Linked DNA regions of Homo sapiens: region 2 is linked to region 1. A link means that fine-mapping ties the variant in region 1 to the expression of a gene that starts in the linked region. Tissue or cell type: naive CD4 T cells. Region 1 holds a variant in brackets; the other region holds the start of a gene. All regions are shown on one strand. Distances are between the middles of the regions.

What was found.
Region 2: it holds the start of NT5C3A, and the variant in region 1 is fine-mapped to the expression of NT5C3A in naive CD4 T cells (Schmiedel 2018, PIP 0.90).

The regions. Positions count from the first base shown.
Region 1 is chr7:33,024,751-33,040,681 of GRCh38, forward strand. It overlaps NT5C3A (5'-nucleotidase, cytosolic IIIA), which reads right to left. Exons shown (of 9, transcript NM_001002010.5): 2 at 2,067-2,165. It also overlaps the pseudogene RPS29P14. Among named protein-coding and RNA genes, the nearest start is that of NT5C3A, 30 kb to the right of the region's middle. The variant C/CAA (reference allele first, on the strand shown) is at 7,673.
Region 2 is chr7:33,058,749-33,074,679 of GRCh38, forward strand. NT5C3A (5'-nucleotidase, cytosolic IIIA) reads right to left here and starts at 4,028. Exons shown (of 9, transcript NM_001002010.5): 1 at 3,820-4,028. The coding sequence starts at 3,957. LOC124901610 (a long non-coding RNA gene) reads left to right here and starts at 4,437. Exons shown (of 4, transcript XR_007060279.1): 1 at 4,437-4,900; 2 at 5,281-5,399. RefSeq lists silencers at 3,663-3,722, 4,023-4,142 and an enhancer at 4,383-4,542.

The DNA of each region.
Region 1 (15,931 bases):
TTACCCTGATTTGATTATTGCACATTTTATATACATTTGAAAATATCACATGTACCGCATATATATATACAGTTATTATGTATCGACTTTAAAAATTGAAAAAATCCAGCCAGGCACGGTGGCTCATGCCTGGAATCCCAGCACTTTGGGAGGCCGAGGTGGGGAGATCACTCGAGGTCAGGAGTTTGAGATCAGCCTGGCCAAGATGGTAAAACCTTGTCTCTACTAAAAATACAAAAATAGCCAGGTGTGGTGGCATGTGCCTGTAATCCCAGCTACTCAGGAAGCTGAGGCAGGAGAATCACTTGAACCTGGGAGGCGCAGGTTGCAGTGAGCTAAGATCATGCCACTACACTCCAACCTGGGCGACAGAATAAGACTCCATCTCGAAAAAATAAAACAAAATTAAATAAATAAAAATAAATAAAAATTTGAAAAAATCTGATTAATTGGTATGGGAATTTGCAATTGCAGGTGATATGGCTACTCTTCTCACTAGAGATTTTCGACCAACTTGGTCAATGCACAAAAATGCAGTGGAAGCAATTCAACTATATGAAGCTCTTAGTTACTGATACCATTACATGCTGGATTTAACTTGCTTATTTAAACTATACCAATGAATGAATGCACATTGAAATAGCTGGCCAGCTCTTGAAACTTAGGAGACTGGGTTAAATATTATTTTTCAGAAATGTTTTAAAAAAGGAATAATTTTTTTTTTTACAGAATATCCAGATTGTTGATTTAATTTACATGTAACACATTCCTTTAAAACAGAGACAACTTTTTAAAAACTCAATTATCCCCTTAATAAGGCTGTATCTTAATCTGAACTACTATGATTAAAACATGAAAGAGCAGCATAAAACTAAACACTTTTAAATATTATCCTTAAAATGGTTTAATGCTTGTACACAGCATGAGTTAGCTTCTTACTTAAGACTAATAAAAACTTAAGAGTATTTCAGGATTATTAACTTTTGTTTTTCCAATAGGGTATTCTGTCTGTTTTAGAACAACTCAAGATATATATTTTCTGGATTTTATATTCCTAAAGGATAGGCAAAAACTGTCTACCTAAACTTGCTGTACTCAGATTTTATCAAACAGGAGATGAATGAGTCGGCTTTAACATTAAAAATAAAATAAGGCTGGGCCATGATGGCTCACGCCTGTAATCCCAGCACTTTGGGAGGCCGAGGTGGATGGATCACTTGAGGCCAGGAGTTTGAGACCAGCCTGGCCAACATGGCGAAACCCTGTCTCTACTAAAAATATAAAAATTAGCTGGGTGTGGTGGCAGGCACCTGTAATCCCAGCTGCTCTGGAAGCTGAGGAGGGAAAACTGCTTGAACCGGGAAGCAGAGGTTGCAGTGAGCTGAGATCGTGCCACTGCACTCCAGCCTGAGCAACAGAGTAATACTCAGTCTCAAAAAACAAAAAAATTAGCTGGTTGTGGTGGCTGGCACCTGTAATCCCAGCTGCTCGGGGAGGCGGAGGTACGAAAATCGCCTGAACCCAGGAGGAGCAGGTTGCAGTGAGCCAGGATTGCGCCACTGCACTCCAGGCTGGGCAACAGAGCGAGACTCCATCTCAAAAGAAAAAAAAAAAAAAAAAAAAGAAGCCTTTATTATTAAGCTTTTATTTTTGGAGTGCAGTGGCATGATCTCAACTCATTGCAAACTCCGCCTCCCGGGGTTAAGTGATTAGCCTGCCTCAGCCTCCCAAGTAGCTGGGATTACAGGCATGCGCCACCAGGCCCGGCTAATTTTTGTATTTTTTAGTAGAGACAGAGTTTCACCATGTTGGCCAGGCTGGTCTCGAACTCCTGACCTCAGCCTTGTCCACCCGCCTCGGCCTCCCAAAGTGCTAGGATTACAGGTGTGAGCCACTATGCCCGGCCATTTTTTTTTTTTTTTAAATAGAGATGGGGTCTCACTATGTTGCCCAGGCTGGTCTCGAACTCCTGGGCTCAAGTGATCCTCCTGCTTCAGTCTCCCAAAGTGCTGGAATTACAGGCATGAGCCAACACACACAGCCAAGGCTTCTTGATAATTATTCACCTGAAGTTTGGCAGCTCCTCCTTTGATAAGACCACAGATAATTTCTTCTACTCTTGTAGGGTTCTTGATTCGAACTGAACTTTTCTGGAATTCTGGCATCTAAAAGTAAAAGAAAATTAATTAATTAGTTTTCATTCTTCTTTCCCCAGGTTCCTTTGATACCAAGCAGAAACCTGTCTTATTTAAAGACATAAAAATATTAAGGCATTATTTTTAAAAAGCAAGCCACCACATCAAATTACCGTTTATTTATTTTGTTATTACTTTTTTAGAGATGAGGTCTTGTTTTGTCACCCCGGCTGGAGTGCAGTGGCACAATCCTAGCTCACCGTAGCCTCAAACTCCTGGGCTCAAATGATCCTCCCATCTCAGCCTCCTGAGTAGGTAGAAGGCATGCGCCATCATACCCAGCTAATTTTTAAAATTTTCTGTAGAAGTGAGTGAGGTCTTGCTTTGTTGCTCAGGCTGATCTTGAACTCCTGGCCTCAAGCAATCCTCCCATCTTGGCCTTCCAAAGTCCTGGGATTAAAAGTGTGGGACACCAAGCCCAGCTCCCACATTACCATTTATACACACAAAAATACTTAAAACTTATCAGTATTTTCCAGCTACAGAGTAAGATAAAACTACATTTGTGATTCAATTGCTTTATCAGAAAGTATATATCTTTTTCTAAGTATAAAAGCAATGCACGCTTACCACAGAAATAACAGTAAAAATATAAAAAAGACAATAAAAACTGCCTGGAGTTCAACTACGTGAAGATAAACAAGTAACATTTAAATTTATTTTCTATTAGTTTCATTTCTGTGATTTTCTATTAGTTTCATTTCTGGGTTGTGATGCAATCCAGAGAGCCCAGAAATCATATTTTAACCATGAATACCCCAGCAGCTACCCCTCGATTGATTAATTTTTCTAAAAATCTTAAGATGACTCCCGTTAAGCCTCCATTTTATATAATACAGTAACTAAACTTCCACCCTAATACTAATATAATACCTTCAGCATATCCCTCTGAAACATGCATATATACGCATATAGTTTTAGCTCATCCTCATTATATACTTTTGCATCTGGCTTTTATGAATTAATACATACATTTAGCTTGCCTACATATTTATATTTTAAAATGTTCCTGAGCAGAAAGGAAGCAATTATCACAATTATTCCCCCAAAAGTTTGTCTTTGTATAATTAAAATACATTTAAAATATTTTAAATTTGAAAAGCTGCTTCAAGATCTTTGCTCTTTTTATTGTACTATTTTCCAAATAATATACTGTTCTTGGCACACATTTTACAATAGATTTATTTCAAATGGAGATAACTGCCAAAAAGTATTGTGCCAGGCACAGTGGCACATGCCTGTAATCCCAGCTACTTGGAAGCTGACGATCACTGGAGCCCAGGAGTTTGAGACCAGCCTGGGCAACACAGCAAGACCCATCTTAAAAAATGGGTGTAGGCTGCTACTACAGAGTTATGAAGACTTTAGGGTTGCTCAACAATTTAATCTTAAGTATTATTTCTTGTTACTAGCTATTTTATCACAAATAGAATGAAACTGATTAGAGGAAAAATCAGTACAAGCTCTCATAGCACATGTACAATACAACTAGAAGGAGAAAATTATGCCTCATTTTATAGTCAGTTATACAGCATAGGCAATAATAGTACCTCAAATCCAAGTTCTATACTGGTTTGTACTGGATAATCTTTATTTATATGTTTTTATTCTGGGTATGTTATTAGTAATATTAACATAGTTCATGTGTGTCATGGACATGGTTACAAAAATTCCCTGGACCTTCTATCTTTGCTACAAGAGAATCTCACCACGTAAATCTATCAGATGCCGTGTTGTTCCTACATAATGGGCAAGAGTAGAAAAATCAGAAAAAGGATGGACTGTCTTCCAAAGACTGGAAGATGATAACGAAAGTGTAGAGGAAAGAGGCCGGGCACAGTGGCTCACGCCTGTAATCCCAGCACTTCAGGAGGTCGAGGTGGGCAGATCACGAGGTCAGGAGATCGAGACCATCCTGGCTAACATGGTGAAATACTGTCTCTACTGAAAACATAAAAAATTAGCTGGGCGTGGTGGCGGGTGCCTGTAGTCCCAGCTAGTTGGGAGGCTGAGGCAGGAGAATGGCGTAAACCCGGGAGGCAGAGCTTGAAAAAAAAAAGAAAGTGTAGAGAAAAGACAAATGCTAACATTAAAATTTTCTCCATGGATGAAAGATCTACCACCTACAATATATTTAATTTTAAAAAGCCATATTTAAGTAGGATGACCTGCAATGCAACTAACCTTGATGTAGTAATCCTTTTAACTCAACTGGATGAGTTTCAATGGCTTAAAGGTTATCTATGTATTTTATAGTGATTTTTCAATAGATGGAAAGGCAGATAGGCACTGGTTCCTATTTTTTTTTTTCATACATTAACCCATTCACTCGCCTAACCAATATTTACCATGTGTCTACTTTGTGCCACACACTCTTGCTAAATGCTAGGGATATGATGATGAGTAGTATTTACTCTGCTTTTCTGCTGAGTTTTAGGGACCACTGCTGTTTTGGAATATCACTTCTGTAACTCCCTTACAAATACCTCAGCTAGTAAGTTTATCTCTTGACAACTAATTTCTGTTCTTACCTCAGCCTTAACTGGCAGATGCACAGCAATCAGCATATGTTTGATTCAATAACCAATCCATTATGGTGAAAGCAACACAGGATATATATCATAGACTATTTTTTCACCAAAAAAATTAAATATTTGATTTCAGTGTACCCAAGATGTCTTACCTCAGGCAAATCACAGCTTCAAGTTTTTGATAACGGATAGGAGAATCACACCAAGACCACTTCGAAGAAGGCTGGTTTCTGCTACACTAACAAATGTAAGATTGGTTTATTTTATTTTTATAGAGATAAGGTCTTGCTGTGTTTCCCAGGCTGGTCTCAAACTCCTGGGCTCAAGTGATCTCCCCGCTTCAGCCTCCCAAAGTGCTGGGATTACAGGTGTAAGCCACCATGCCCAGCCAATACTGGTTTACTTTAAATCACAATGGATGAAAGAGAACCAGTAGCTAAAGGCATTGGTGGCTCCTGTGCAACATACAACCATTCATTTTCATTGTGTATTCATAAGTAGTGAATACACAAATGGCACGGGAGTAAAATAATGATGAAATAGGTATAAGAAATATAAAAATGACCATTCTATCTGTCTTGGGTTATATAGTATACTATACTCCTCTCCTGCAATACACAATTAATGTCACTGATCTATATGAGAAATACTTCACAAGAACTTGAGATATGGGGTATTTTACTCAAATACTTTACAATATAGCCTAAGAAAGAGAATCAAAGACTCCTGTATGGAATATGTCAAAGAGTATCATAATATAAGCACACTGTAGAAGTATGATGAAATACATCACATACTTTTTGTTGTGGTGGTTGTTGTTGAACATGCCCCAACTGTTGCATGAGATCACATACTTTTGTTACCTCCACAAAGTCCTTCTGTCTATATCCCTCTTATAAAAACACAGACTTGGTTTGGTGGCATATAAATAATGATACTTCAAATTTGAAGGGCAAGGTATTTTGAATTGTCTGAAAAATTTTCAATTTGATTATGATAAAATTTTATGAAAAATAAATAAGAAGCTAAAAATTTCCATCATTTGTGATAAAAAGAGAACAAATTCATTTTATGGTAAAGCCGCAGCGTAAAATGTTGGGGAGGGAGCAATGCCTTCCTGAAAAGAATCAGGGTATGTTGGTTGATTGATGCCAATCTGAATCAACACCAAAAATGATTAAGAAAGACCTAAAATTCACTTATTTTGACCAATACTTAATATATTTATAGAGATGAAATGGATTTCAAAGTTATGCCATTTTATCCACAACTCAATTGTTTAATATTAGATTTGATATGATCTTGTGGATACACTGGGATAAGATAAAAATGTGAAGCTCTGGCCAGGCGTGGTGGCTCAGGCCTGTAATCCCAGCACTTTGGGAGGCTGAGGCGGGCGGATCACGAGGTCAGGAGATCGAGACCATCCTGGCTAACACGGTGAAACCCTGTCTCTACTAAAAATACAAAAAATTAGCCAGGCGAGGTGGCGGGCGCCTGTAGGCCCAGCTACTCTGGAGGCTGAGGCAGGAGAATGGCATGAACCCCGGGGGGCGGAGCCTGCAGTGAGCCGAGATCGCGCCACTGCACTCCAGCCTGGGCGACAGCGAGACTCTGCCTCAAAAAAAAACAAAAAAAAAAAAAAAGAGAGAAGCTCCATAGTACAGTTACCAAATTTCTGGGTGTGGCTTGGTATCATCAATCCAATGATAATATTCCAGACTAGGGATAATCCTAATTTCCAGGATGAGATTATGACAACTTCAAAGTTTAATTCTGTTTGAACTAGATTTCAAATTATATTAAATTTTGATTAAAAAAGAAAACACGGCCGGGCATGGTGGCTCATGCCTGTAATCCCAGCACTTTAGGAGGCCGAGGCAGGAGGATCACTTGGGCTCAGCAGCTCGAGACCAGGCTGGGCAACGTGGCAAAACCCTGTCTCTACAAACAATACAAAAATTAGCCGGGCATGGTGGTGCACATCTGTAGTCCCAGATACTCGGAGGCTAAGGTGGGAGGATTGCCTGAGCCTGGGAGGCAGAGGTTGCAGTGAGCTGACATCATGCCACTGCACTCCAGCCTGGGTGACACAGTGAGACCCTGTCTCAAAAAAAAAATAAATAAATAAAAAGATTTTGTATTAAAAAACACACATAAATACATTATATTTAAAATAATGAATTATTATTCTTAAACTAAAAATAAAAAACAAAATAAACTAAGGGTTATACAATCCACAATGTACAGAGAAAACAATTCATATTTTAACCAAGACTAAAAAAATTACTTGTACTTTTAATTTATAAATATGTATGTTCATCTATATGAGTTTCATTTATTTATTATTTTTAAAATTTATTTTTGGCCGGGCACGGTGGCTGACGCCTGGAATCCCAGCACTTAGGGAGGCCAAGGCCAGTGGATCACCTAAGGTCAGGAGTTCAAGACCAGCCTGGCCAACATAGTGAAACCCTGTCTCTATTAAAAATACAAAAATTAGCTGGGCATGGTAGCACATGCCTGTAATCCCAGCTACTCTGGAGGGTGAGACAGGAGAATCGCTTGAACCCGGGAGGCAGAGGTTGCAGTGAGCCGAGATGGCACCACTACACTCTAGCCCAAGTGACAGAGCGAGACTCTGTCTCAAAAACAAACAAAAAAAGGCCAGGCACAGTGGCTCATGCCTCTAATACCAGCACTTTGGGAGGCCAAGGCAGGCAGATCACCAGAGGTCGGGAGTTCGAGATCAGCCTGGGTAACATGGTGAAACCCCATCTCTACTAAATATACAAAATTAGCTGGGCATGGTGGCATACACCTGTAACCCTGTTACTTGGGAGGCTGAGGCAAGAGAATTGCTTGAACCCAGGAGGCGGAGGTTGCAGTGAGCCAGGATTTCGCCACTGCACTCCAAGCCTGGGTGACAGAGTGAGACTCGGTCTC[C/CAA]AAAAAAAAAAAAAAAAAAATTTACTTTTATGTTTTTTTATTTTTATTTTTTGAGGCAGGGTCTTGCTCTGTCACCCAGGCTGGAGGGCAGTGGCGTGATCTTGGCTCACTGCAACTTTCCCTCCTGGGCTCAGGTGATCCCCCCACCTCAGACTCTCAAGTAACTGGGACTACAGGGGCTCACCACCACCCTCGGCTAATTTTTGCATTTTTTTGTAGAAACAGGGTTTTGTAGTGTTGCCCAGGCTGGTCTTGAACTCCTGGACTCAAGCAATCTGCCTGCCTCAGCATCCCAAAGTGTTGGGATTACAGGCATCAGCCACTGCACCTGACCTATTTTAAAATTTTTGAGACAAGGTCTCACTCTGTCACCCAGGATGGAGTGCAGTAGCGTGATCACAGCTCACTGCAGACTTGACCTCCTGGGCTCAATAGATCCTCCCACCTTAGCCTCCAGAGTAGCTGGGACTACAGCCATCTGCCACTATGCCCAGGTATTTTTTTAATTTTTGTAGAGACGGGTCTCACTATGTTGCCCAGGCTGGTCTCAAACTCCTGAGCTCAAGCGATCCTCTTGCCTTGGCCTCCCAAAATGCTGGGATTACAGGCATGAGCCACAGTGCCCAGCCTCAGTGAATTTTAAATCACCTTAGTATTATCCTACATTTTTCTGGAAATAGCCCACATAAAAATTAGTTTGAATCACTTAAGAAATTCCAGTCAGATGTTCTCAGAGAAATATTCTTTCTTGGTTTTCCATTGTTTATATTTGGTAGCAACAAAAGACTTCATTACTGCAGTGGTACAAAGAAGTAGGCACTAGAGTTTTTATCCAGCTACACAGAAAGTATAGATTTAAAGCCACCTATTCAAACTGGTACATTTACCCCCACACATAGATGATTCTCAGATTTATTTGGAAGATTATGCACTACTAAATTTTAGTAATAGCGATTTCCCTTGCTTATTACATATTTGGTCTGTTTCTACATTAAGATAGTGTAGGCCAAATTCTTTCATTCCTTCACCACATATTAAGTATAAGACAGTGTGTGAAGCCGCTCTGTAAGAGATATATAAAATATAAATCTTACACTCAAGGTGCATATTCTCTAATGTGGATTAAAAAATAGAAACCCAAATAATTAATACATTGCCAAGATGTCCAGATAAAATGTAAAAGGAATAGAAGAAACAAAGATTTCTTCTTCTGGGGTCAAAGGAGGAAGAGCCAACAGAGGTAGGCTCTGGAAGAGAAACAGGATTTAGATATGCTGAGATTAGGGAGGAATCAAAGTGCAGGGTCTAATATGGGAAAAAGAGAAATAGCTCTGTTTGTATAGAACTTGAGTGTACACAGAGAAGTGTGCATGTAAAAAGTCTGGACAGAGAGATCTGAATCCTGTTCATGAGAAGTAAAGAATAACATGCTATAAAGTTGTCAATATAAAAGACATATATATATATATATAATTTTTTTTTTTTTTGAGAGGGAGTCTCGCATTGTCGCCCAGATTGGAGTGCAGTGGCGCCTCTCAGCTCACTGCAAGCTCCGCCTCCTGGGTTCATGCCATTCTCCTGCCTCAGCCTCCCGAGTAGCTGGGACTACAGGTGCCCGCCACCACGCCTGGATAATTTTTTTGTATTTTTAGTAGGGACGGGGTTTCACCATGTTAGCCAGGATGGTCTCGATCTCCTGACCTCATGATCTGCCCACCTCGGCCTCTCAAAGTGCTGGGATTACAGGCGTGAGCCACCGCGCCCGGCCAGACCTATCAATATTTTTAGGAAAGCAAACCCAAGGTAAAAATTGTGTAAATTAATGCAATAATAGTTAAAAAAAATCTTTTGGCTTGTTTTCCTTCAACAGTCTGAATAACTGTGGAGTGAATACACTGCTACTTGCCTCCACAAACACCTTCTAGAGGGCTCTAGGACCCAAGTAACAACATTATACAAAGAGGATTAACATTGTTTATATGTCAGGGAATTCCTATACTGCTTGTGTTCACGTAAGTTAAAAAAAAAGTCAACCCAAACAAGAAAATAAGTTTTAGACTGGTTTAATTCTATGTATCAAAGAGATATGCTCAATTCCAATGAATCAAGTGCCAATCCTTCAATGGATAGAAAGAGCTGTTATTAGGTTGAACCATATAAAACTGGCAATACTGGACTATATTTGACATATAAAAACAATTTCATACGCTTCAACCTAAGAGCAATAACTAAACTGACGATGACTTAATCACCATTTTGAGTCAACTTTCACCTTTGATCCTACACTGGTTGGGGGAAAGATGAACAAGAGATTTATTAAGCGTGACAAAATGCTGTGTCACGCTCTAGTTTATAGGCCAGAAAAAAGCTAGAGAGAAAGAGAAAGCTGAAAAAATAAATGGAACAGAAGAGGAGGCACAACAATAATAAGAACACAAAGAGAAAACAAGAGATCATGAGGCAGTTGTTCTCTTTAAAAGAAAGGATTATTTTTAATTGTTGTTTTTAAGATTTTATCACTGTGAATATGGAGAACAGATGTAATTTCTTTCCACACATGCAAATAAATATGCCAGTTACACAGTTAAAACACTCACTAACGTAATAGAGTAGATCAATATTTAATGAATGCTTAATCTGGGGTTACTAGGAACTTGACGTTTTCACTGAGTATGAATAATAACACATAGTTGGCGGTTTCACACCCATTTCTTAAAGGTAAGATTACTGCTCTCATTCAGGGCTATAGAAGCTAATAAGGAATGAGTTTTTTTTTTTTTTTTTTTTTTGAGACGGAATCTCGCTCTGTCGCCCAGGCTGGAGTGCAGTGGCGCAATCTTGGCTCACTGCAACCTTCGCCTCCTGGGTTCAAGCCATCCTCCTGCCTCAGCCTCCAGAGCAGCTGGGACTACAGGAGCTTGTTACCATGCCCGGCTAATTTTTTGTATTTTTAGTAGAGATGGGGTTTCACTGTATTAGCCAGGATGGTCTCGATCTCCTGACCTGGTGATCCGCCCGCCTCGGCCTCCCAAAGTGCTGGGATTACAGGCACCCGGCCGGAATGAGTTAAGATACGAAGCCAGTTCTGACTCCAAAGCCTGTACATTTCCTATCTCATCCTAGTATATATAATGCAACTCTATTGTCATGCAAGTAAGTATTTTAAAAATTTCTGAATGCTTGTCATTTAAATTTGGAAACCTACAATAATGTATTTCACACTGTACGATTTAAGTGTGTTATTGCTGAGCAAAGAAAATTTAGCGTAAAAAGGAATGGGGAAACATTTTATATTCTGAGAAGCACGACAATGTGCATTAGATTTCAAGCAAAAACATTTTAAAGATAATTTGAAATTCAATTCAATAAGTATTTGAGGTTTATTTTGTGATGCACTGTGAAGAAAGAGTTGTATAAAATTTCAGTCCCATAATTATCTGGTTAGAGACAGAGGTAAAAGTGGTGAAGATTTACCATTAATAAATGGAACTGGAAATAGGCAAATACCCACCATTTTCACATGTACGGCAGACTCTTGATTAGTCATTTCTTGGTTATCCAATCTTCTGGATTTTCCCAGGTGATGTCACAGCAAAAGAGAAAAAAAAAAGTACACGTGACATACATAAATTTCAGGTTCTTCCTGTTATGCCAATAATATATTAAGGTGGAATTTTTGGTATGACTTATTTATTTTGTTTTTTAAAAATGTTTATTTTATGTACAAAGAACTAACATGGTTTCTTTCATTGGGTGGATGCCTTGGATAATCCATTCAAGGAAGATCACTTAGTCCAACTCAATGAAACCTATGTCCTTTGCATACTGATGGAAACACCGGCGGCACATATTGAGGCCGTGTTTCCAGATCAGACTATGCTGGTTTGGGCAGATGTGACAAGAGTGAGAACCCTGGCCCAGCTTCCGTGGGTGGCTCCAGTAGGGCTGCTGGTGACCCATCTTGCTTTCGGGAGTGCAATGAGGCAAAAGGCTTTGCTATGATTTAACATAGCCTATATTTGACACATAAAGCATCTTTTTTTTTTTTCTAAGAAGCTCAGCAAGGGTTTTACTCTATCCAGCATAGTTTTAGATTAACCATTTTGTATGGAGAATCTGAAGCTCTCCTGTAAGAACTTATATGGTATTAAGAAAATTGAATAAACAGTGAAAATGAAGTACATATTTGCAAAGAGCACTTTATTGCAAGAATATTTTATCAACACTTTCTCTACATGTAAGGATGAAGTTTGTGGGAAAATTATGCATTGCTACTACCGAATCAATATAGGAATATACAGACAGAACAAAGTAAGGGAAGACATAACACAAAAGTCCATTTTTTCCTTCAATTTTCTTACATTAAAATTTTATTTTTATTTTTTTATTTTTTATTTTTATTTTTTTTGAGATGCAGTCTTGCTCTGTTGCCAGGCTGGAGTGCAGTGGCATGATCTCAGCTCACTGCAACCTCTGATTCCCGGGTTCAAGTGATTCTCCTGCCTCAGCCTCCCAAGTAGCTGGGATTACAGGCGCATGCCGCCACGCCTGGTTAATTTTTGTATTTTTAGTAGAGATGGGGTTTCACCATGTTGGCCAGGATGGCCTCGATCTCCTGACCTCGTGATCCACCCGCCTCTGCCTCCCAAAGTGCTGGGATTACAGGCATGAGCCACTGCGCCCGGCCTAAAATCTTTAATTTTTTAATATGATATGACTAAGACATGAGCTGTATTTGAATCGAGCATTGTGTCTAGCACAAAATAGGTATGTGAGAGTGTTTATCAACTGAATGAACCTTTTAGGGTCTGGGTGAAGTTTAAATATATCTGTTCATCAAACAAAAGGAACCAGTTTTTAAAACATCTCTCATCATTATTCTAAGATTTTTGGTTGTTGCTGTGTTGGTAGTATAAATCTTAGGGAAAATTACTAAGCTATGTTTGTTCCATAATGACTTTACTTTTACTTTATTTCAGATAAGTAAAATTTTATAATTAAAGCACTATTTAAAAATGGCAACTTAGTTGAAAGCGAGAACATATCTGACTTTTTCTTAAACTCTAGTAATATAAGTTGGACATTAGATCTGTGTTCTTTATAATTAAAAGGTGTTATAGCAGATATATCAAATTTTCTCAAATTCTAAAATTCGGTCCCTACTCCCTTCCATTTTAAGTCCATGAAATTACAAAATGTCTTTTTCTCCCTCTCTCAGAAAGCCTGCTAGTAAGTTGATAGTCTCATAATTGACGGCATCTTAGAATTGAGTAAACACGATTTCCAAACAGTAAGATGATAACTTGCAATTTTTCACATCTGAAAAAGAATGTATCTGCAGTATGAGTGTGTGTATATATATCGATATAAAGATGTGTATGTGTATATATCTTTGTACAGCTATATATATACACACATACACTATATAACTCATAAAACATTTGATCACCACCCTCAAAATATAATGGTAGTTTGGGGATTAGTAGTCTTTAGCTTAGATGATTATAGTCAAGTTTAAGTAGACTTTCCTTGGTCTAACTTTTTTCTGTCACAGTCATCCAGATTTTTAACAAACAAGATATTATAGAAGCTGCATGCAAGTCTATTTCTTCATTCATAGCAATCAAAGCCTAATTATTAAATGCTTACAGCTTTTCTTTGATGTTTAATATGTGAAAAGCAGTCTAGATTTCTCAAAGAGCACTATTTAAATAAAACTATCTCATTAGCTTGAAAAAAAGGAATAGTGTGGAGACTGTGGAAAAGTACTGTAGAGTTTACAAAAATACCGCATAATCTGTGAAACATTTGAAAAGCCCAAGGGCAAACAATTCACACAGTGAAGAATTAAACACATTTTAATATCTAGGAATCTAAGATCTTTTTGTTACACATTCAGGTAGTAGAAATCCTCTTTATTCTCTACCTCTGAAGTATGGCTCTTTTTGGAACATACATTTTGAGTTTAAAGGGGAAAAAAGTCAGTATAAGTTGGTAAAAGAATGATCATCTTTCTCATGGTCTCATCAAATAAAAACAAAGAGTGATAAGAAATTTGATGGCCAACTTTAGGACCTTTTTTTTTTTTTTGGTAAGTATACCAACAATTCATGAATACTATGCAAATTTCAACTAAAGATCTTTCATTCTTGCCAGTCCTCACTAGCAATCTGACCAGAATTTATCTTTGTTCAAAGATAATCTCACATAAAGTGATACTGCAGTCCTTATACAAAAATTACTCTAAGGTCTTATCATTTAAAAAGTGTAAAGACTCAGGTGTAAAATGTCAGCATTCTGGCACTATTCTAAGGAAGACACTGAAAATTAGGGCAGAGTATTTTTAAACCAATAGGCTTGTAAACCTATACCTGGTATATAAAGTTCTGGCTTACTTTGCCAATGGTCATCTGTTGCAGATGCTTCAAGAGAAGAGTTGCTGGAAAAAACACATCAAGTGTAGAAGACGTGTTCAAAAATAGAAAATACTGCCCTTGATCTACGAACTCTCTTCAAAGGAAGTTTTAACATTTTAAGTCTTCAGAGTCTTTAAATGTGAACTGGAAAATGTGGAAACTGGAAAATAATTACTTTGTGTGCTTTTTGTATGAGATTAAGGTCTCTACTATAGCAGAGTTCTTTACAAGGAATATGTAGGACAAGTCTAAAGACTGAAGCAAGAGGTAAGAACTTCACTTAACACAAACTTGATAACTGAAAACTTTAGTTATCACAGTATTTCATTCTGATGATAGTTTACAAGTCAATTAATGAAAATTGATTGGTATGTCTACATGAAAAAAAATTACCTGATTTAAAGCAAGTCTTAAAGTACCTGAATGCAAACTGATTACTTTTAAAGGTCTACTTGACTCTGTCTTACAGGAAAGTGAAAAAGATTAAATTCATGAATATAGCTTTAAAAACTGTGACTGCTTTAATTGTGATACTCGCAGAAACATGTAAACTACATTGATAAGGTAATAAAATTGTGAATGCTAAACTGTGTATTACTCACATAAGAAAAGGCATATATTACCATAATATGGACACAGTATCCGCAACAGTACCAAACATCAATTTTTCCTATACTTTTTCAGTAACCTGTACTATTTGACTTTCTTAAGCTTGGGTTTTTTGTTTTTTTTTTTTTTTAATGTTACTGTCTTCGGGTGATTAGCACATGCAAAATCAAACTGTAACTTCATCTTTTCTGTATGGCTGTAATAATTTGGTGGGGCATTTAAATAATTCTTCCTAATTAGATTTTCAACTCAGCGGTGGGGAAAAAGAAACACACACGCTGCAAAGTGAAACTTTCTCAATACAGGCATAAAACAAAAATGAAACTAAATAGCAAAGAGTGGGAGGGGTAGAAGAGATATAGGAGGAAAGAGGAAAAAACAGATTTCAAAAGCTAGTTATTTAAAAATGGGCAATTTTAACCAATTTTCCCAAATGGTAAAGCAGCTACTGAGTCAGAATTTTGTGGATATTTATGCAAATAAACAATTTCAATGTTTAGAATTTATTCCTCTATCCTTCCCACATTCACTACCTCTAATATCTAATAGCATTTTTTCAAGATAAGTAAACCACATACAGCACATGGAAACTAAGTAATTTATACTGACAACCCTTAAGACACCCTGAGTTCTTCTGTCCTTGAATTTGTCCTAGGACAACAGCATAGGTGACAAGCACTACCCAGAGATGCCGGGCTTGGATGCAGGCTGCCAATAAAAACTAAGCAAACTGCTTTAAGAAATGATCTGCAGCATGATCTAACTTCTCTGATTTAAAGGAAAAAAAAACCTATAAAATATAGATAATTCAATTATTTAAATATAACTTAGCCATAATATTCTAGGCTTTTACTGTAATATAAATTTTTGAATCTTAATTTTCAATATATAATTTGTTATAAATCAGTAATCTAGCTTTTATCAATTCATAAAACATACCAGTGATAATCCCATTCTATAAAATCCTGGGTAAAGCTCACATGCACAAAATAAAAATTGATAATCTTTATTACTACCCATAATAACTGTTCCTAATCCTAGTAACACAAAGCTTGTGGCTGTCAGTAAAACTGAGTCACATAGCCAACTGAATGAACAACCAAATTGAATCTTAGAGTGTTTCCCCTCAACCTGGAAAGAGACTTCTGAAGGTACTTTGCTTTTTCTCAACATCTACAGGTGAAACAAGAAGCTCTTAAAATTAGAACATATAAAATGTAATTTCTGAGACCTA
Region 2 (15,931 bases), 34 kb after region 1:
TTTTCTCCTCCTCTTATCTTTAACCATTTGCTTTTCACTACTCCTCTGCCCACCAACATACTTCTGTGCCAACCATTCGAAAAACAAAACAAAATACCCATCCTCAGCACAACTACTTCCTCTGCCCAAAAGTCATTTTTTAGTTGTCTTCACATCATTGTTTTACCAACGGCGGCTCAACCCACTGCTACCATAGCCTTTCAGACCAACTTCTGATCTTGTCATCAACTTCTGACCTTAGAGAAGATGGACATAGCTAATTCTGCCCCTTCTTTTGGAAACATTTCCTGTTATTCCACCTCTGACAGCTTTCAGCATCTTTACTGAACTTGGCATTGCCAAGTTTTCTGTTTTCTTCTCGCTGTAAAACTATGGATGAGAAATAATATCCAGCTCCACACTGGCCATTGAGAGGCTAGACATTAGGGAAAATATTATTTCTAGCCTCAATTTATCTTTAGAGCTCCAGCCTTCCATTTTCAGTTGCTATTGCTAATAATAACAATAAGTAATGTATATATTGGTTACTCTGGGCCAGGCACTTTTCTAAGCACTTTAAATATATTAACTATTTCATGAACATTTCTAGTTGGTCATTCCTTGATCATCTCAAATTTCATATGACTTAAAGTGAACTTGTGATTCCACATTTCCCTTACCTCCTGGCTACTTTCCAAACCTGCCATTTTTTCCTTCTCTTCATCTTGGCTAATAATATAACCAGAATCAGCAGTTACCTGATAATCTTAAAGTTATTTCTCCTTACAATTAATCCCTTTATCTAATGATCACAAATAATAAGCTCTGAAAGAAAGCAATTATGTTCTAGGCACTGTGTTATCTCATTTAATCTTCACAACCTATGAAGTAGGTACTATCATTATCTCCCAATTAATAGATGAAAAATGGGAGATTCAGAGAGGTTAAGTAATTTGCCCAAGGTCACATGGCTTGATAAATGAGAAAAACTAGATTCAAAACTAGGTTTGTATGACTCTACAGTCTGTGCACAAAGTCCCGTTGATTTTATCTCGGAAATGTTTGTCTCCTGATCCCTTATTTCCATACCTGTTGCTAGTGCCATAGTTTAAGATCTCTAATCATCTTTCGCAAGCAATACTACCAACCTCCTAAATTTATTTCTTTCCAGGATCTTCCCTTCCAGTCCACCTTATCTCATCTTCATAAAACATACTGTTGGGTTTTTTGTTTCTCTGTTTTGAGACTCTGGGTGACTCTGTCACCCAAGCTTGAGTGCAATGGTGTGATCACGACTCACTGCAGCCTCGACCACCTTGACTGAAGAGATTTCACCTTCGGCCCCTAAGTAGGTGGGACTACACTACAAGTGTGTGCCACTGCACTGGCTAAAATCTTTATTTTCTGTAGAGAAAGGGTCTCCCTATGCCGCCCAGGCTGGTCTCGAACTCCTGGGCTCAAGGGATCCTCCCGCCTCAGCCTCCAAAAGTGCTGGGATTGCAGGCGTGAGCCACTGTACCCTGCCAAAGCAAACCTTTGATGATCCTTTGTTGCAAAATAAAGAGCAAACTCTTTATAATGGCTTTACAAAATTCCTTTACAATTCAGTTTCTTGATCCCATTCCGTATCTTGCTTTCCTTCTTTTTTTTTTTTTTTTTTTTTTTTTTGAGACAGGGTTCTCCCACCTCACCCTCCCAAAGTGCTGGGATTACAGGTGTGAGCCACCATGCCTAGCCATGACTGGCTTCTTCTGTACATTAATCTTGCTGCCCTATGGGATATTTCAGCTGTAGCATACACAACCCACTAGCAACTTCCTCATGTCTCTCAATTAAAAACTCTTGCAAGACAATGCATCATTTTGACCAAGTCCCAGAAGTTATTGGTTTTCTTAGCCAGTTAGATAGGCCCAACTTGGTTAGGTAGTTAACTCCGTTAGCTGTGACCAATATGAGCTATGTCTGTTGGACATCATGGGTTTGCAGAGATTTTTCTGAGGGAGGAGGGCAGAGGATGGGCAGAGCAGACCTACATTATTACAGAAAGATGGAACTAGGATTCCAACCCAGGTCTTCTGACCCCCAGTCAAATACTTCTTCCACTTGAAGAAGCAACCTATTAAAATTAAAAAAGTTAACATGAAGCTCTTTTCACTTTTTCCATTGAAAAGCTACTAGCAGGCTACACATATATTACAATCTGAATTAATATACTATGCATACATGTAAATATTGACTGATTTCTTTAGTACCAATAAGTTGGTATTCTAGATAGGTCTTCATTATTTGTCACAAAGATAGCAAACTGTTCCTATGATGGTATCATTGAAGGATTTTGTGAACACACTGATTTTTAACCTTACTTGGCTTAGATAAGTGGTATACAGACCAATCCATAGTTTAAGCACAGGCAGGGAGATATGGCAACTCGGTTTTTTCCCCTACATAGGCATTATTAACCTTGGGCAAAAGAAAGCCAAGTTTTCTAAGCAGGAAAGCAACAAAAGCAAAATGAAACTTCTGAGTTAAAACCATTTGCTGCTGTGGGCATACAGATGTGGGACAAATGAATTTTAATAAGCCTTTAGAATTATTAAGACCCTTTAAGAATAAATTAATTCAAAATTAGGGAATATTATTGGAATATGAGACAAGTGGGAATTAACTTTTTTTTTTAAGAGACAGGGTCTCGCTATGTTTCCCAGGCTGGAGTGCAGTAGCTATCCACAGGTGTGATTATAACCTTGAACTCCCAGACTCCAGTGATCTTCCTCTCAGCCTCCCAAATAGCTGGGACACTGGCTAATTTTAATTATGCAAATACATCTGTATTCAACCTGGGGTCAGTACAACCAATAGGACAAATCGTGTCTTTCGTCAGTTGGAACATATTGCAGGTGCTCAGAAATTCCAAGTATTACACCCTAAAATGATATTATTTAGTGTAGATTTTAAATTTTTTTCTATCATAAATCATCTGACCCTAGATGTTCACATGTATAGCACACGGTCAGGCGTATACCCAGGATTATGCATTTCAGGAAATACATAAGCGTGCAAGTTTGTGCAAGAATTGTCTTCCTGAGTGGGTTCTAATTAAAATACAAAACGAAACTAAATATCCTCATTTTTGAAACAATTACTTATAATGTATCTCAAAGGGAATTCTTGAGACACCCTCTTCAATAAAAAATTAAATTCGAAAATGTATACAAGAGCTTTGGGAGTTAAGATGAAAACAAAGATATTTCGTGGGAGTTTTGAGACAAGAAGGAATACATTCAAATACAAAATAAACTATCCTGAATTTCTCCTGGATTGCCATTCTTGTAAAATTTTAGATATTGCACATTTTCATAATCTAACTCACGGCAGCCCCAACATAAAACTAGTCCTCTGCGGGAATTGCAACTAGATTAGCGGCAACGGTTTGACGCGGATCCGGGGGGAGGGCGGGAGCAAGGCAGGGAGAGAAGGAGCCACCTGCCCAGGACATGCAGCTTATCTCTAGAGAAACGGGTTTTGCAGCACAAAGTAGCCTGTGTCCGATTCATCTATTTTCTGCCTTGTTCCTTCAAACGGAAACCTAACAAAGACCACGGGCAGCCAAGGGCCGCAGCCGGGGACCCAACCCTGGTCACCAAGCCCGCGGAGTGGCCGCACGCGGGGCGGCCGGGTCCCCCAAGCTGCGCGTCCCGAGCTAGCGAGATCCCAGCCTGACAGGCGACGCCGGCAGCTCCCCGTCGCGACCGAACAGCGGCCCAGCACAGGCTGCCGAGGCCAGCGGACGGCCCAGCCGGCCCCTCGCGTGCTCTGGGCGCGCCGAGCCTCCACACTCACCATCTCGATGATCTTGGTCTTCCGCCCCGTCTTCCTCTTCAAGGTGAATATGTACTGAGCCAGCACCACCCCCGCCACCAGGGCGCACACGCTGGCGCTCGCTACCGCGCCCACCCTCGCCACGGCCGCGCGGTCCATGGACGGGGCCCTCATGCGCGTCCAAGCAGGAAAAAAACAGGCAGCTCGCGTAGACTGCGAGTCTCGGAAGCGCGGGATCCCAGAGCATCACGGACGAGCCCGCGACGCCCCGCCCCGCGCAGCGACGCCCCGCCCCGCGCAGCTCCGCCCCCACGAAGCCCCACCCACACGCCATCGATGGGAGAGGCCAGGACGCGGCGGGAGGGGTGTGGCCTGTGCCCGGAGCCCAGGCTGGAGGCGGCCTTCAGCAGACTCAGGGTCTCACGAGCTGCTGTCAGGGCAGGGCAGAGTATTGCGGTAATTATCCTTCTCTGCTAATGAGGATTAGGCCGTGGTTCGCTCGAGCCCCGCCCCAGTAGAAATCTAATTCCAACTGCGGCCCGCTAAGAAGTCGGTCTCCGCCTTCGCGCCTCAGCCCCTCTGGACTCCGACCCCCAGAAGGCTGCGCGGCACGGTGTGACCTGCGCAGTGGCGTCCGTTCTAAGTGCTATAACAACAGGGGGAAGATGGCTCAGAGTTAGGCTGGAGAGGGGCGGTGTCCCTTCCGCCGCAGCCGCGGGGTTTCTGCTACATCCCATTCGCCACCTCCGCCATCCTTTTTTCTGTGTGAGCAGAAGGGCTTGCAGTTGTTCTCTCCTGCCTAGTGTCTTCCAAGGGATAGATGCCATTTCTTCTGCTGGTCTCTGGGGGTGAGGAGGGGCGCAGGGGAGCTTCTTGGGGGAATCGCTCCAACTCTGTGGAGCTGGTGGTGCTGCCTGGTGGGGCTCTCTCTGCCCAGGACGTGGAACAACTTTCAGCCGGAGGACTAGAGGAAATAGTTGTAGGGGAGGAAAAATTGTTTCCTTCTAGCCTTTTAGGTCATTTGGCTGGTCTACAAATTAAATTGATGTAAGACAGAGGAACATGAGAAAAACGATTTGTCGACCGAAAGGTGAAATAACAGGTACTAAAACTTAAAGAAATCATGGTTAGTTTTATTACTCGGCCAAGTTTGAGGACTTAAGCCTGGGAACACAGACTCAGTATAGACCGAGAACGTGTCCCAAAGTAAGTTAGCTGGGAGTATAACCTGAAGAAGACTGAGTTTTAATACCCAGAATATTTGAGTATCAATATCTAGACTACTGTGTCATTTTGTCGCCAAAGTAATTTTTTATGAATCCAGTTTTGCACCAAATACCAATATGACTTAAATGTTGTCTGATTGTGAGGCCTAAGATGGTCACAGTCTCATTTATCTTTCTTCCTCAACAAAAACATTTTCCATATATTACATATTATTTTGAATGGGTAGAGACTAAAGCCACGTTTCTATAATTTCAGGATTTTAAACATTTTGTAGACGATAACATTCGTCTTGAAGCTGTGGACAATCTAAAACAGAAATGGAGTTCCAAATTTTGTTTTTGTAATATGGCCCGTCAACTGCACATGGGAAGAATGTGGGTACTCTGAAATATGATTTCTATTTTAACTAGTTATACTATATCATAGGTCTGATTATCATCTATATGAGATGTTAAAGCTGTAGGAGTATAGTCAATTAGACTACAAACCCTGGTAGTAAATTTCCAGGAGGAAAGGGGTCCATATGTTTTTTATAAGTGTAAACCTTGTGTTTCTGAATCTAAGAGGGTTGGCCATGTTTGGAGACTATTTCAGCTTCTATGTGAATTAACATATTAATTATTCTTGTTGAAAGACATGGAAGATCTTGATATGGTTTGACCCTGTATCCTCACCCACATCTTATTTTGAATTATACTCCCATAATTCCCATGTGTTGTGGGAGGGACCTGGTGGGAGATAATTGAATCATTGGGGTGTTTTCTTCCATACTGTTTTCGTGGTAGTGACTTAAGTATCAGGAGATCTGATGGTTTTATCAGGGTTTTCGCTTTTGCGTCTTCCTCATTCTCTCTTTGTCTGCTCCCATCCATGTAAGATGGGACTTGCTCCCTGCCTTCCACTATGATTGTGAGGCTTCCCCAGCCACGTGGAACTGGAAGTCCAATTAAACCTCTTTCTTTTGTAAATTGCGCAGTCTGGGGTATGTCTTTATCAGCAGCCTGAAAACAGACTAGTACAGATCTCTACACGGAGAACTACAAAATACTGATGAAAGAAATCAGGCCAGGTGAGGTGGCTGGTGCCTGTAATCTCAGCACTTTGGAAGCCCAAGGTTGGGGGATTGCTTGAGGCCACAAGTTTGAGACCAGTCTCGGCAACATAGCGAGACCCTGTCTCTACAATCCCTGAAAAACCAAAGAAATTAGCTGGGCATGGTGCTGCGTTTCACTCTCGTCCGTGTGAAGAGACCACCAAACAGGCTTTGTGTGAGCAACAAGGCTGTTTATTTCACCTGGGTGCAGGCGGGATGAGTCCAAAAGAGAGTCAGTGAAGGGAGATAGGGGTGGGGCCGTTTTGTAATATTTGGGTAGGTAAAGGAAAATGTGTTAACAGTCAAAGGGGGGTTGTTCTCTGGCAGGCAGGGGTGGGGGTCGCAAGGTGCTCACTGGGGGAGCTTTTGAGCCAGGATGAGCCAGGAGAAGGAATTTCACAAGGTAATGTCATCAGTTAAGGCAGGGACCCACCATTTTTCACTTCTTTTGTGGTGGAATGTCATCAGTTAAGGCAGGAACAGGCCATTTTCACTTCTTTTGTGATTCTTCACTTGTTTCAGGCCATCTGGGCATATAACTTGCAGGTCACAGGGTATATGATGGCTTAGCTTGGGCTCAGAGGCCTGACACTGCATGCCTGTAGTCCCAACTACTCAGGAGGCTGAGGTGGGAGGATTGCTGGAGCCTAGCAGTTGGAGGCTGCAGTGAGCTATGATTATGGACTCCAGCCTTGGTGAAAAGGTCAGGAGATCGAGAACATCCTGGCTAACACGATGAAACCCCGTCACTACTAAAAATACAAAAAATTAGCTGGGCGTGGTGGCGGGCGCCTGTAGTCCCAGTTACTCGGGAGGCTGAGGCAGGAGAATGGCATGAACCCAGGAGGTGGAGCTTTCAGTGAGCCGAGATCATGCCACTGCACTCCAGCCTGGGCAACAGAGCAAGACTGTGTCTCAAAAAAAAAAAAAAAAAAAAAAAAAAAGTGAGACCCTGTCTCAAGAAAAAGGAAAAGAATGGAAGAAAGGGAAGGAAAGAAGGAAAGAAAAAAAGAAAGAAAGAATAGATGACACAAACAAATGGAAAAAACGCCTCATGCTCCAGGATTAGAAGAATTAATGTCATCAAAATGACCATACTGCCCAAAGCAATTCAAATTCAACAATACAGATTCAGCAAATACAGATTCAGGAATACATATTCAGCAAATACAGATTCAACACAATACCTGGCAAACTACCAATGTCATTCTTCATGGAATTAGAAAAAACAATCCTAAAATTCATGTGGAACCATAAAAGGGCCCAAATAGACAAAGCAATCCTAAACAAAAGGAGTAAAGCTGGAGGTATCACATTTTGACTTAAAATTATACTACAAAGCCATAGTAAACAAAACAGCATGGTACTGGTATAAAAATAGACATGACACATAGATCAATGGAACAAAATAGAGAAACTAGAAATAAATGCCCCATATTTGCAGCAAACTGATATTTGACAAAATATACACTGGCAAAAGGACACCCTATTCAATAAATTGTGCCGGGATAATTTTAGAGCCATATGCAGAAGAATGAACCTGGACCCCCGTCTCTCACCGTATACAAAAATTAACCAAGATGGATTTAAGACTTAAATGTAAGACCTGAAACTATAAAAATCCTAGAAGAAACCCTGGGAAAAACTCTTCCGGACATTGGCCTAGGCGAAGAACTTATGACTAAGTCCTCAAAAGGAAACAACAAAAATGAAAAACAAAAGTTGACAAATGGGACTTCATTAAGCTAAAAAGCTTCTGCAATGCAAAACAAATAATCAACAGACTAAACATACAGCCTATAGAATGGGAGAAAATATTTGCAAAGAATGCATGTGACAAAGGGTGACTATTCAAAATCTATAAGAAACTCAAACTACTCAACAAGAAAAACCATTAAAAAGTGACCATACTGCCCTTGACATGAAGGACAACATTTTTCAAAAGAAGACATACAAATGGCCCACAAGCATATGAAAAAATGCTCTACAACACTGGTCATCAGAGAAATGCAAATCAAAACCACAATATGATATCGTTTCACACCAGTCAGAATGGCTTTTAAAGTCAAAACACAACAGATGCTGGTGAGGCCATGGGGAAAGGAGAATGCTTAAACACTATTGGTGGGAATGTAAATTAATTCAGCCACTGTGGAAAGCAGTTTGGACATGTCTCAAATAACATAAAACAGAACTACAAGTCAACCCAGCAATCTAATTACTGGGTATATATTCAAAAGAAAAGAAATTATTCTGCCAAAAAGACACATGCATCACAGCACTATTCACAAGAGCAAAGACATCGAATCAACCTACGTGTCCATCAACAATGGATTGGATAAGGAAAATGTGGTACATGGACATGAGTCAATACTACACAGCCATAAAAAGAACAAAATCATGTCATATGCAGCAACATTAATGCAGCTGGAGGCCATTATCCTAAGCAAATTAATGCAGGAACAGGAAACCAAGTGCTGCATGTTCTCACTTATAAATGGGAGCTAAACATTGAGTACTCATGGACATAAAGATATATATATTATATATATTTTATATAATATAAATTATATAAAATATATAATTTATATATTATATAAGTATATATAAAATATATATTTTATATATAACATTATATTTGTATATATAATATACAATATCTTTTCAGGCAGCTGCCTAGCCTTTATTTTATATATTTTATATGTTATATAGTATATATTATATATAATATATAAATATGTGTTTTATATATTTATAATATGTAATATGTAATATATTTATATATATAATTTATAAGTATATAAAACACTTATATATAAATATATATATTTATATATATAGATGGAACTGCAGACCATTTTCTTTAGTGAAATAACTCAGAAACAAAATTAATTTTTTTTCTCACTGACAAGTGGGAGTCAAACAATGGGTGCACATAAACATACAGAGTGGAATAATAGACATTGGAGACTCCAAGTGGTGCAAGGGTAGGGGGGCAGGATAAAATACCACCTATTAGATACAATGTATATTATTCTGGTGATGGGTGCACTAAATGCCCACATTTTACCACTACTCAATATATCCATGTAACACAACTGCACTTGTACCCCTAAATCCATAAAAAAAAAAAAGAACTAAAAAAGTGAGTTTGGACACATGCTCTTTTTCACTATTGGACCTTAGCATTTTCCCCATAAATTGAGCAGTTTGATTTACCCGCTTTAAAAATAGCATCATTATCTTTTCAGGCAGCTGCCTAGCCTTTATTTTTTTCCTGGAAGAGTACTTCCTTTAGCTTAAATTTAGGTCAGTAAGTATTGATTTTTTTTGAAAATGCCTTTTTTCATTATATGCACTCTTGACTTGCCCTAACACCCCCAATCCTGCACCTGTTGCCCCTAAGGATCTCTACCTTACTTGGCCAGTGTTGCCATATCCACCAAACATGTTGTTGCCACTGGGCATTTATGGCAGAGGTGCAGTTTGAGTATAAGTTATGGACCCAAAAATGTTGAGTGTTCCAAATCAACATGAGGTGAATGGTAGCTACTCCTAAATAGAGCTTAGTCTGAGTGTGTCATAAGACTTCCCATATTTTTTCTGAGTGAGTCCTAAATTACCATCTAGTGGGATCCTAGTCCATTAAGTGATTCCTACTGTGTGATTTTAGGTTACATTATACTGTTTTTTTTCCAACCACAAAAGCAAGGTTTCTGTCCCCTCAGTCAAGAGATACTGTGACAGGGCACACAGGTTGCTGCTGTCTTTTCTTATACCTGGGGACCTTGCACAGTAACTGATACCTATATTTATAGAAACACAATGATCCATTTGTCAAGTATTAAAAATAGACCAACGAGATCTAGAATTGGGAAGGACTTTCTGGATGTTCCTTTCTACATGGGAACCTAGATAGTACATTATACTATTTCAGATAGTATATTATATCTGAAAAGAAAGTACCATAAGCTGTAGGAACATTGGATTGGTTCCAAGCGGTTGACATTAGAATACCAATGTCATTTTGATATGGAAATATTGGAAAATAAGAGTCTGTCCCATATTTATGTTCATCAAATTAGTTATTTTCCAATGTATGGTGAGGGTATTGAATAAAGGAAGGTGTTTTGTGGGGAGCAGATATGTGCAAACCTACCCCAAAGTCCACAGAAGCTGAGAGGCTGAAGACAGAGGCTGACAAATCCAGTTATAAACAGAAGCCACGTCTGTGTCTTCAGTGGCAGTAAGACAAGATGGTGGATGCCCATTACCATGACCCCTCAGACCCAAGGCTTATATACCAGTGGGAAGGGGTGGTTTAGAAGGAATGTGTAGGACAATTGACATATAATAATATCAAGTTTGTTTGACTTTAGGGCAGTATTTATGGTAAGTACTTGCTTTTACACAATGAACGATAGATAAACTGGAAATCTTAGATGCCTTCTCAGAACAAAGAATATCAGAAGCCAACATGGTGTATTAGCTTTTTTTTTTTTGAGACGGAGCCTCGCCCTGTCACCCAGCCTGGAGTGCGATGGCACAATCTTGGCTCACTGTAAACTCTGCCTCCCAAGTTCAAGCAATTCTCCTGCCTCAGCCTCCCAAGTAGCTGGGATTACAGGTGTGCACCACCATGGCCAGCTAATTTTTGTATTTTTTTTAGTACAGACAGGGTTTCACCATGCTGGCCAGGCTGGTCTCGAACTCCTGACCTCAGGTGATCCACCTGCCTCGGCCTCCCAAAGTGTTGGGATTATAGGCGTGAACCACCGTGCCCGGCCAGATTAACTTTTAAGATGGAGTTGCTTTGTCCTCCACAGAGGGGTTGTCATTAAATATTTAGACAGTATAAAAGGAAAGCATGAGAGTAGAAGTCATATACAGAGGAAATTATTGTTTTATTTTGTTTTTTGATGAGGTCTTGCTATGTGGCGTAGACTGGTCTTGAACTCCTAGGTTCAAGCGATCCCCCCAAGTATCTGGGATTACAGGTATGCACCACCATGCCCAGCTATAGAATAAATTTATTGTATGGGACTGGTCTAGTATCTTGAGATACACTGTGTACCCTGTTGTTGTCTTTGTCTTGTCTTTGGAGGAGCCAGGAGTCTTTCAAAATTTTAACTGAAGATCTCCAGAGGGCTTAGAAATCCATTTAGGAGTTGGGGCTTTTTTAAAATGAGAGATGTGAACCCAAGAGTCAAATCCTTCAAGTTTAGCTGCACAATGATTAGTCAACAGTATCTAATAAGGTTCCTTCCAGTGAGGCTTAAGAGAGTCCTTTAGCTGATGTCTTTCCCAATAAATGTAGTCACCCAATTGGAGGTCATGACATTTGATGTCTTCATCTCCCAGTAGTGTGCTGTAAAATAAATAATAAACTGTTCCATGCATCTTGACTGCTCCAGCTCCAGCCATGTCTCAAAGGGGACCAGGTACAGGCTGCTACTTCAGAGGGGACAAGCGTGGCAGCTTGGCAGCTTGCATGTGGTGTTAAGCCTGTCAGTGCACACAGTGCAAGGGTTGAGTCTTGGGAGCCTCTGCCTAGATTTCAGAGGATATATGGAAAAGCCTGGATGTCCAGGCATAAGCCTGCTGCAGGGGCGGAGCCCTCATGGAGAACCTCTACTTAAGGGTAGTATGGAGAGGAAATGTAGGGTTAGAGCCCTCACACAGAGTCCCCACTGGGGCACTGCCTAGTGGAACTGTGAGAATAGGGTCACCATCCTCCAGACCCTGGAATGGTAGGGCTGCCAACAGCTTGCACTATGCACCTGGAAAAGCTGCAGGCACTGAATGCCAGGCCATGAGAGTAGCTATAGGGGCTGAACCCTGCAAAGTCAAAGGGGCGGAGCTGTCCAAGGCTTTGGCAGCCCACCCTTTGCCCCAGCATCCCCTGGATGTGAGCCATCAAGTCAAAGGAGCTTATTTCAGAGCTTTAAGATTTAATGACTGCCCTACTGGGTTTTGGACTTGCATGGGGCCTGTAGCCCCTTTCTTTTGGCCAATTTCCCCCTTTTGGAACGAGAGTATTTACCCAATGCCTGTACCCCATTGTATCTTGGAAGTAACTAACTCGTTTTTGATTTTACAGGCTCATAAATAGAAGGGACTTGCCTTATCTCAGACTAGACTTCGGACTTTCGAGATAATGCTGGAATAAGTTAAAACTTCGGGAGACTCTTGAAAAGGAATTATTTTATTTTGCAACATGAGAAGGACATGAGATTTGGAGGGGCCCGGGGTGCAATAATATGGTTTGGACCTGTGTTCCCACCAAATCTCATGTTGAATTGTAATTCTCAGTGTTGGAGGTGGGGCCTGGTGGAAGATGATTGATCATGGGGTTAGAGTTCTCATGAATAGGCTAGCACCATCCCCTATTCTTGTGACAGTGAGTGAGTTATTGTGAGATCTGGTTGTTTAAAAGTGTGTAGCATGTCCCCTGCCTCCCCCACCCCGACCCCACACCACCCCTGCTCCTTCTCTGGCCATGTGAAGTGCTGCTCCCTCTTTGCCTTCTGCCATGATTGTAAGTTTCCTGAGGCCTCCCCAGAAGCAGAAGCTTCTATGTTTGCTGTACAGCCTGCAGAACCCAAAGCCAATTAAACCTCTTTTCTTTATAAATTACCCAGTCTCAGTATTTCTTTATAACAGTCTGAGAATGGACTATTACAGACATTTTCTTATAATTTGCATTGTGGCTCTTTTGCTTGGGAATGTTTCAACCCAGTGGGAGAACATGCAAATCATAACCCACATGAATTTATATCCCTGAACAGGAGATAATTGAACGAAATGTGTTTGTCAAATATCAAAGGGTCCAGCAGAAAGGGAGAAGTGCCTCTGTGACTCACAGAGGGGCTAGATTATGTTTATTTAGCATAAACCTTATAAGCTATTGTGGGTGAAGGTTTTCAGTAGTATTGTTTTTCTCATGCAATCATTTTTTTTTTTTAGGTCTCCAGTGTATAAGCTCATAGATGTGTTGTAACATAGGAAATTGAAATCCCATAGGCAAATGGGTTTGTCATTGAGTCCATACCATAGGTTACAAGTGGTAGCGGGGAATATTTGCCTTTTGTTAACCATATTTCTTTTCTCTCTCTCTTTTCTTTCATTCTTTTCTTTCTTTTTTTGAGACATGGTATCATTCTGTCTACCAGGTTGGAGTACAGTGCCACAATCATGGCTCACTGCAGCCACAACCTCCTGGGCCCAATCAATCCTCCTGCCTCAGCCTCCTGAGTAACTGGGGACTGCAGGTACCTGCCAACATGCCTGGCTAATTTTTGTATTTTTTTTTTTGTAGAGACAGGGTTTCACCATGTTGCCTAGACTGGTCTCAAATTCCTCGGCTCAGGTGATCCTCCTGCCTCAGCCTCCCAAAGTGTTGGGATTACAGGCATGAGCCACCACACTCAGCCTGCTAATCATATTTCTTTTTCCTTTTCTGAGGCTCTTTCTTGAGCATCCTGACATTCCCTTTTAATTGGGTTCCATTTAAGCATGGCTATTTCTATGATTTCATCTCATACTGGTAATAGGGCAGCTGTCTTTGCTGCTACATCAGTAAAATGGCTTCCCTTACTTTCCAGAGACTCAGTTTTTGAATATCTAGGGATCTTATAGCCAAATTTATTTTTGTAATTGAATGGCTTCTATAAGTTTAGAGACGTGAGAGCCATGTTTTGTAGGGTGTCTAGAGGAAGTCAGATGACCTTGTTATTTCTGTAACATTCCGAAGTCATGAGCTACACCAAAAGCATAGTGACTGTCAGTGTAAATTTTAGCTGTCTGATCTTTGGCCAACTGGCAAGTTCTAGTGAGCTCTATTAATTCAGCCAGCTGAGGTGATATCACCATAAGGAAAGGCTTACTTTTTGTAATGTCCACAAAAGACACAACAGCATAGCCTGCTCAATATTTTCCAATATTTATCCTTTAGATATGATCTATCACCAAATAACATCAGCATTCTCTAGTGTTTTTTTGTTTTGTTTTGTTTTGTTTTGTTTTAACAAATCCTGTCTGGCCATCAAGAGCTATACTGTTAGTGATATATAATCACAGGGCATCTCATCAGTCACTTTAGGCAGCAGGGAAGTGAGCTTAAGAGCATTATAATGAAGATTGTATTATGTGAGGGAGAGAGTAAAAGTATCTCATAAGACACCAGCTGGCCAGGCACGGTTGCTTACTCCTATAATCCCAGCATTTTGGGAGGCTGAGGCGGGAGGATGGCTTGAGCCCAGGAGTTTGAGACCAGCCTGGGCAACATAGCGAGACCTCCAACTCTACAGAAAAATTAAAAAATTAGCTGGTTGTGTGGTGGCATGTCTGTTATCCCAGCTACTCAGGGGTGCTGAGATGGGAGGATTGCTTGAGCCCAGGAGATTGAGGCTGCAGTGAGCTATGATCATGCCACTGCACTCTATCCTGGTGACAGTGTGGGACCCTGTCTCAACAAAACAAAAGAAGCCAACCTGCTAATAGAAAAAGGTTAAGTGCAATGCAAATTTAGAAGAGCTTCAGCAGAAGGAGGTACATACGTAGTGGAACTTTCATTACAATTTCCTGAGTAGCCTTGAGAAGTGCAACTATGGCTGAGATGGCTCTTAAACAAGGGGGTAATCCACATGCTACAGAAGCTAGTTGTTGGCAGTAATAGCTGATACGTCTATGTTGTCCCCGTGTTTTGGGGCCAGAATGCGTAAGGTGATTCCATGACTTCCATGGACAAAGTGGAAAAATGGTTACTAGTAATTTGGATGTCTTCAATCAGGGGCTTTTATAAAACTATCCTTTAACTCCTAGTTAGCTGTTTGTCCTTCTGTGGTTTAATGTATGAGATCTGGATGATCCTCTTTTACTAATGTATATAAACAGGCCAGGCATGGTGGCTCATGCCTGTAATCCTAACACTTTGAGAAACGAAGACGGCAGCATTGATTGAGGCCAGGAGTTTGGGACCAGCTTGGGCAACATAGCAAGACTTCATCTCTACAAAAAATAAAAGAATTAGCTGGGTTGTGGTGGCATGCACCTGTAGTCCTAGTTACTTGGGAGGCTGAGGCAGGAGGATTGCTTGAGCCCAGGAGGTTGAGGCTGCAGTGAGCTATGATTGTGCCACAGTACTCTAATCCGGGTGACAGGGTGAGACTTTGTCTCTAAAAACATAAAAAATAAAAGAGTGTTAAAAATAATAAATATATAGTTTGTGCCATGAGGGAAAAGTTAGGAATCTAGCTGTGACAGTAACCAGCTAATCTCAGTAGGTGCAGTGGCTCACGACTATAATCCTAGCACTTTGGGAGGCTGAGGCTGGCAAATCACCTGAGGTCGGGAGTTTGAGACCAGCCTGACCAACATGGAGAAACCCTGTTTCTACTAAAAATACAAAATTAGCTGGGCATGGTGGTGGGCGCCTGTAATCCCAGCTACTTAGGAGGCTGAGGCAGGAGAATCGCTTGAACCCGGGAGGTGGAGGTTGCAGTGAGCCGAGATCAGGCCATTGCACTGCAGCCTGGGCCACAAGAGCGAAACTCAGTCTCAAAAAAAAAAAAAAAAAAAAAAAAAAAAAAAAAATAGGAACCAGCTAATCTCAAAATCCATTAAGTTATCTTTTAGTTTTTGGAGTATGGAATGTAAGAATTCCAGTTATTCTGTCTGGATTTATGTGTAGCCCTTCCTTAGAAATAAAATGTCTTAAGTATTTCACTCTGTTAGGCAGAATTGAAGTTTTTTCTTAGAGACTTTATGGTGTTTTTTTTTTTTTTGCTAGTTCCAATAAATATAGACAGTCCC